Linked DNA regions of Homo sapiens. The protein of the gene in region 2 interacts with the protein of the main gene of each other region in a pairwise test. Each region holds a gene or a part of one and is shown on either strand. Other genes may lie near its edges.

Region 1 (3,091 bases), on a different chromosome or scaffold from region 2:
GGAAGGAGCAGGGTGGGGGAGGATCAGAAGCCCAGCTCCGAGCAAGTGAGTTTGGGGCGTTTTTCGACAATTGAGAGTACACAGCTGGAGACAGGAGTCTGGAGCCCAGGCGAGAGGTTCAGGCTGAGCCCAGGAAGCTGGGAGCCCCTGTATGCAAACTGTTCAAGCCCATGAGCATGAATGAGACCCCAGGTGAGTACAGACTGAGGAAACCTACCAGGCTGGGGGCTGAACTGGAAAATCCTGCTGTCCTGGTTGGAGAGAGTCTCAGGGAAGTGTCCACCAGTGCCCAGACACCCCAGCTCTCTCCCAGACCTCTCTCTCACTTCCTCAGGATCCAGCAGTGTGGTGCAGTATCCATATAGTTCAGAACCTCGTCAAATGTTGGCCCTTGTCCGAGCGCAGTGGCTCACACCTGTAATCCCAGAACTTTGGGAGGCCGAGGTGGGTGGATTGCTTGAGGTCAGGAGTTTGAGACCAACCTGGCCAACATGGCAAAACCCCATCTCTACTAAAAATACAAAAATTTAGCCAGGCGGGGTGGCGCCTGCCTGTAATCCCAGCTACTTAGGAGGCTGAGGCAGGATAATCGTTTGAAGCCGGAAGACAGAGGTTGCAGTGAGCCGAGATCACGCCACTGCACTCCAGCCTAGGCTACAAAGTGAGACTTTGTCTCAAAAAAAATTAAAAAAATAAAAAAACTGTTGGCTCTTACTGTGAGTGAGATGGGAGCTGCCTGGCCTAGCAAGGGACTTCCAGGACCTGTTTCCACTAAAGCTGGCAGGACTTTTTCTCCTCCGGGTACAAAGACTGGCCTGCCATGGAGCTTCTCTTCCAAGGCATGATCTGACTTAGGTTTTAAAAGGATCATTCTGGGGCCAGGCGCGGTGGCTCACACCTGGAATCCCAGCACTTTGGGAGGCCAAGGCGGGCGGATCGCCTGAGGTCAGGAGTCCGAGACCAGCCTGGCCAACATGGTGAAACCCTGTCTCTTATTAAAAATAGAAAAAGTAGCCGGGTGTGGTGGCGGTCACCTGAAATCCCAGCTACTCGGGAGGCTGAGGCAGGATAATCGCTTGAACCCAGGAGGTGGAAGGTGCAGTGAGCCAAGATTGCACCACTGCACTACAGCCTGGGTGACAGACCAAGACTGTCTTGGGGCTGGGGGGCGGGGGTGAGAAGGATAGTTCTGGGTTCGGGTAGGGGGGAGGTGAGGGAAGGAGTGGGAAAGGGGAAATCAAGGCAGCATCGAGGGTCGCTCACCCCTTACCTGTATTTCTCTCTCTACAGATACATCAGCCCACAGCAAGGCGGGCTCCAGCAGCCCGGAGCCATGGGCCCGGCCCTCCTGCACTCCCCAGGAAGGGGGCTGCCCACGGCCCAAGGAGCGTGAGTCACCACCCCCTTCGGCCCTGCAGCCGGTCCAGCTGCCTCGCCTGGCCTTGTCTCCACCACCCCCAGCCCCTCCACTGCCACCCCCACCGCCACTGGCCCAAGTGGCACCCTCACCCCCTAGCCCCCCACCCCCTCCTCGGCCTCCACCCACGCTCTCGGCCTCAGACCCCTCCCTGGACTTCCTGCGGGCCCAGCAGGAGACTGCCAACGCCATCCGGGAGCTGGCCGGCACCCTTCGACAGGGACTGGCCAAACTGAGCGAGGCCCTCAGCGCTCTGCTGCCCCTTCTGCCAGGAACCCCAGTTGACTCCCTGCCTCCACCTCTGCCCCCACCCCCACCCCCACCGCCACCTCCCAGGCCTGTCCTGCCCCCACCGGCCCCCAAGGTGGAGATCACCCCAGAGCCCGTGTCCGTGGTGGCTGCTGTGGTGGACGGGGCAGTGGTGGCAGCCAGGGGAGTGATCATTGCCCCAAGGAGCGAGGAGGGGGCACCCCGGCCCCCCCCAGCCCCGCTCCCTCCGCACGACTCCCCCCCACACAAGCGGAGAAAAGGTTTCCCTACACGGAAAAGGCGCGGCCGATGGAAATCTCCGTGAAATCTACTATCTATGATCCTGCCTGCAACCCCTCTCCCCAGCTTGGCGCAGTCGAGGGGGGCGATGCTCTCTGCCCATCCCAGCTGCACCCTAGCTCCCTGCTCCAGGGATGTGAGCACCCACTCCCTGTGCTAGTTAGTGCCTGATTCTCTGGGGGGGGCCTCAGTAATGGGCCCCCCCAACCCCTTTCTCTGGTACAGTGCTGTCTGCCTGGCTGCCTCCCTTAACCCTGACTTCTAAGCCATCAATTTCATGTTATTTATTATTGCCCTATGTGGGGTGGGGAGGGAACCTCTCGGGTCTGCACATCTCCCCTTCCCTAACAGTTCCTGTTCTTGACTTGAAGAGAATTGACCCGTGGGGGACTCCCCACCTCCCCAACCCAGACTTTGGAGCGGGTGGGAGTTGTAAGACAAATCAAAATACGGATGACAAAGAGGATATAGCCGTGTATACCCCAGGGAGAGGAGGCGCCGAGTTCTGATGGGAGAGGTACAGGTTGGGTTCTCTGCCTACCATTGCTGTCTCTGACTTCCAGAGCTCAACCCCCTCCTTTCTCCCAGTGGTGACAAGATATCAATAAACTTATTTTTAATACAATTACTTGAGGCTCTGTCTGAGACAGGCCTGGGGGACCAGCACCTACACCTGCCCCGCCCCCTCCACAGGCAGGCAATTGGGAGGCTGGTGGTTTTCCAGCTTTTTTTTTTTTTTAATTCTTAAAGCCATCAAGTCTTGTGTTTACATGAAATCTTATTCCTACTCTTCCTTTAGATACCAGTCTAAATGTCAACTCCAGGAGAAAGTCCTAGATTCCTTCCCCAAGGCTAACGTGGGTTTGCCTCTTAGAGTCTCTTTCAGTGTCCTGTGGTTCTTTTTCTTTTTCTTTTCCTTTCTTTTCTTTTCTTTCCGTTTTTTTGAGATAGGATCTCGTTCTGTTGCCCCAGCTGGAGTGCAGTGGCATGATCACAACTCACTGTAGCCTCGATCTCCCAGGCTGAAGCAATCCTTCTGCCTCAGCCTCCCAAGTAGCTGGGACCACAGGCATGTGCCACCATGCTCAGCTAATTGTTTTATTTTTCTAGAGATGGGGTTTTCTA
Region 2 (4,084 bases):
TTAGACGCTGAAATTAGAGTGAAGGATGAAATCTACAAGATCTACAAAATTGAGACAAAATCAGAGTTGCGTGAATTTGTCACATCTGCCCAGGTCCAGTGTCATGAGAGTAGGATTAGGGCGCCACAGGCATGGCCTGAGACTAGGAAGAGAGCCTTGCTCACTGACCCATCCCTTGTCTGGGCTGCCAAGTGGAACTAGAGTTTCATTCAACCTACATGTGCCTATAGGTCCTCCCTGTGGCAATGACATCTCTCAGCTCAGTAAGGGCCACTTGCAGTAGGAATATGACCCTAACCAGAAGACTCAGTGGATCCTTATCACCTTCATAGAAAGGTACTCACCATCCATGTCAACAGCCAAGCCAACACACTGTTGCTCCAATATGTAAAAGGCACTTCTGTAGGGCTGGCATGAGTCAGTCAGTTCAAGACAACCTGAAGGAGTTGAATAACATCTATCCAGTGAGTCCTGCAAGACTTCAGGCCCTTTCTCATCCAGCAGCTCCCTGCTGAGCCTGGAAAAGTGGGAAAAAGTAAAGAATAAGCCAGGGGGAATCAGAAACCGCACAGCCCCAGCTAGATTTCATGGCTAACGTTAAGGAAGAGTTTGAAAAGAAAAAGGACAGATCCATTAATGAGGTAACAAATTATTGCCTTTATGTTGGGATAGAACAGGGCCAGGTAGAAAACAATGAAAGAGAAAGACAGAGAGAGAGAGAGAGAGAGACAGAGACAGAGAGAGAGACAGAGACAGAGACAGAGAGAAAGTGACCTAGTGAATTGGCCAGGTGACATACTGGTAAGGGAGTAAAAGGACACTCTGAGTTAGTGCCCTCATGACACACAGCAAACTGTGATCATGAAAAGAGTGAGCTCAATAGTTTTCCATAAAATATGCTCAAAATTCGATGCAGTGGCCATGAGAGTACAGCTTTTGAAGTATGGTCAACCTATGGTACGTTAGGAAATGATAAGGGGAGGAAGAAATGGAAACCTAAACATCTACTGCAATGAAAACCAACAGCAATGACAGTAGGAGTAATTCAGCCTTCGTTGAAAACATGACATCAAACACACTCTGGTTTCCCTGAATCTGTTGCCTCCAGGTGTTAACACAGAATTAAGCATCCACAATTGCTGAAAGTCACCTGGGGCATGGTGGGTTTTGATCTTCTTCCCCTTCTTTTCTTCCCCTTCTTCTTTCCTTCTTTGATCTTCTTCCCCTTCTTTTCTTCCCCTTCCCCTTCTTTTCAATTTCTGCAATAAATTCAGACATGGACAGACACATTAAGCTGATTCCCCTACACACATAACAATCCACTGTCTAATCCTCACACAGGGACCTCAGGCTCCTCAGCATAAGAATAGGACACTGTGAGAGATATATTTCAGGAGGCCTGAAGGCTGGTCATGATAGAAATTCCTCGGTTTTTCTCCCAGAAACTGTGGGTAAAATGTCCCTATTCTAGTAGATCGTTATCCCAATATCATTTGTCCCAAGTTTGTGCAAACAGTTATGCCATATTTTTCCAATCAATTTAAAGCAAATACCCTCAAATGATTTCTAGGAGAAAAACTGCAATATTTAGCCCTGTCTCATCAAATACTCAGATTGTTCATGGTTGTGAGGACTTTAGACACTGAAATTAGAGTGAAAAAGGAAATCTACAAACCCTTGAGTCAAAATCATAGTTCTCTGAATTTGTCACATCTGCCCAGGTCCAATGTCATGAGAATAGGATCAGGGCGCCACAGGTATGGCCTGAGACTAGGAAGAGAGTCTTGCTCACTGACCCATCCCTTGTCTGGGCTTCCAGGTAGAACTAGAGTTTCATTCAACCTACATGTGCCTATAGGTCCTCACTGCGGCAACGACATCTCTCAGCTCAGTAATGGCCACTTGGAGCAGGAATATGATCTTTATATGGAAGACTCAGTGGATGCTTATCACCTTCATAGAAAGGTACTCACCTCCCACGTCAAGAGAAAAGCCAACATGTTTTTCCTCCAATGCATAAAAGGAACTTCCATAGGGCTGGCAGGAGTCAGGCTGTTCAAGACAACTGGAAGGAGTTGAATAACATCTATCCAGTGAGTCCTGCAAGACTTCAGGCTCTACTACCTCCACCAGCTCCCTGCTGAGCCTGGAAAAGGAGGAAAAAGTAAAGAATAAGCCAGGGGAAATCACACACAACAGAGCCCCAACTAGGTTTCATGGGTAGCATAGGGAAGTGGTTAAGAAAGTAAAAGGATAGATCCATTAATGAGGTAACAAATTATTGCCTTCATGTTGGGACAGAACAGGGCCAAATGGAAAAGAATGAAAGAGAAAGACAGATGGACACACACACACACACACACACACGCACACACACACACACACACACACAGAGAGAGAGAGAGAGAACGAGCTCAGTGAATTGTCCAGGTGACACACTGATGAGGGAGTAACAGGACACTCTGAGTTAGTGCCCTCAGGACACACAGCATACAGTGATCATGAAAAGACTGTGCTCAATAATTTTCCATAAAATGTGCTCAAGTTTCCATGCAGTCGCCATGAGAATACAGTTTTTGAAGTCTGGTCCACCTACAGTAGGTTAGTAAATGATAAGGGGAGGAAGAAATGGAAACCTAAATATCTACTGCAATGAAAACCAACAGCAATGTTAGTAGGAATAATTCAGGCTTGCTTGAAAAGATGTAATCGATAATGTCAGCCCGCTCTGTTTTCCCTGAACCAGGAGTCTCCAGATGTCAACACAGAAGTAGCTGTTCACAATTGCTCAGTTACCTGGGGCATGGTGGGTCTTGGTCTTCTTCCTCTTCTTGGTCCTTTTTAATTCCTGCAATACATTCAGACAGGGACAGACAAAATAAGCCAATTCACCTACACCCATAACAGTCCACTGTCTAATCCCCACACAGGGATCTCAGGCTCCTCAGCATGAGAACAGGACAATGTGAGAGATATACTTCAGGAGGCCTGAAAGCTGGTCATGATATTCTTTGGTTTGCATCTCAGAACCAAGGGTGAAATATCCCCATTCTGGTAGATCGTTATCCCAAAATCACTTATCCCAAGTTTGTGCAAACAGTTATGCCTTATTGTTCCCATCAGTTCAAAGAAAATGCCCCAGATGATTTCTAGGAGGAAAACTGCAGTATTCAGCCCTGTCTCATCAAATGCCCAGCTCGTTCATGGATGCAAGAATTTTAGACACTGAAATTAGAATGAAGGAGGAAATCTACAAACCCTTGAGTCCAAATCATAGTTCTGTGAATTTTTTGCATCTGCCTGGGTCCAATGTGCTGAGAGCGGGCTCAGGTTGCCACAGGCATGGCTGGAGACTAGGAATAGAGCCTTGCTCACTGACCCATTTCATGTCTAGGCTTCCAACTGAGACTACAGTTTCATTACAACCTATATGCGCCCACAGGTCCTGCCTGCGGCAATGACATCTCTCGGGTCAGTAAGGGCCACTTGGAACAGGAATATCACCCCTATCTGGAAGACCAGGTGGAGGCTTATCACCTTCATAGTAAGGTACTCACTGTCCACGTCAAGAGCCAAGCCAAGGTACTGTTCCTCCAATGAGTAAACAGCACTGCTGTAGGGCTGGCCTAAGTCAGGCAGTTCAAGATAACCTGAAGGAATCGAATAACATCTATCCAGTGAGTCCTGCAAGACTTCAGGCTCTTTCTCATCCAGCAGCTCCCTGCTGAGCCTGGAAAAGTAGGAAAAAGTAAAGAATAAGCCAGGGGGAATCAGAAACCACACAGCCCCAGCTAGATTTCATGGCTAACATAAGGAACTGTTTAAAAAGAAAAAGGACAGATCCATTAATGAGGTAATGAATTATTGCCTTTATGTTGGGATAGACCAGGGCCAGGTAGAGAAGAATGAAAGAGAAAGACAGGGAGAGGGAGAGAGAGAGAGAGAGAGAGAGGAGAAAGTGAGCTCAGCGAGTTGGCCGGGTGACACACTGATGAAGGGGTCAAAGGACACTCTGAGTTAGTGCCCTCGGGACACACAGCGAACAGTGATCATGAAAAGAGTGGGCTCAATAATTTTCCATAAA

What was found.
Region 1: the proteins of NBPF19 (region 2) and MYPOP interact in a two-hybrid assay, tested with the Homo sapiens proteins (one large-scale study listed by BioGRID).

Annotation. Positions count from the first base shown.
Region 1 is NC_000019.10:45,889,523-45,892,613, reverse strand, and holds the end of MYPOP (myb-related transcription factor, partner of profilin), read left to right. Parts: intron 1-334; coding exon of another isoform or gene 335-444; intron 445-1,290; coding exon 1,291-1,991; 3' UTR 1,992-2,591; downstream 2,592-3,091. UniProt on the Homo sapiens protein: Transcriptional repressor; DNA-binding protein that specifically recognizes the core sequence 5'-YAAC[GT]G-3'. Dimerization with PFN1 reduces its DNA-binding capacity.
Region 2 is NC_000001.11:149,498,719-149,502,802, reverse strand, and holds part of NBPF19 (NBPF family member NBPF19), read right to left. Parts: intron 3,731-4,084; coding exon 3,558-3,730; intron 2,849-3,557; coding exon 2,797-2,848; intron 2,147-2,796; coding exon 1,974-2,146; intron 1,260-1,973; coding exon 1,151-1,259; intron 518-1,150; coding exon 345-517; intron 1-344.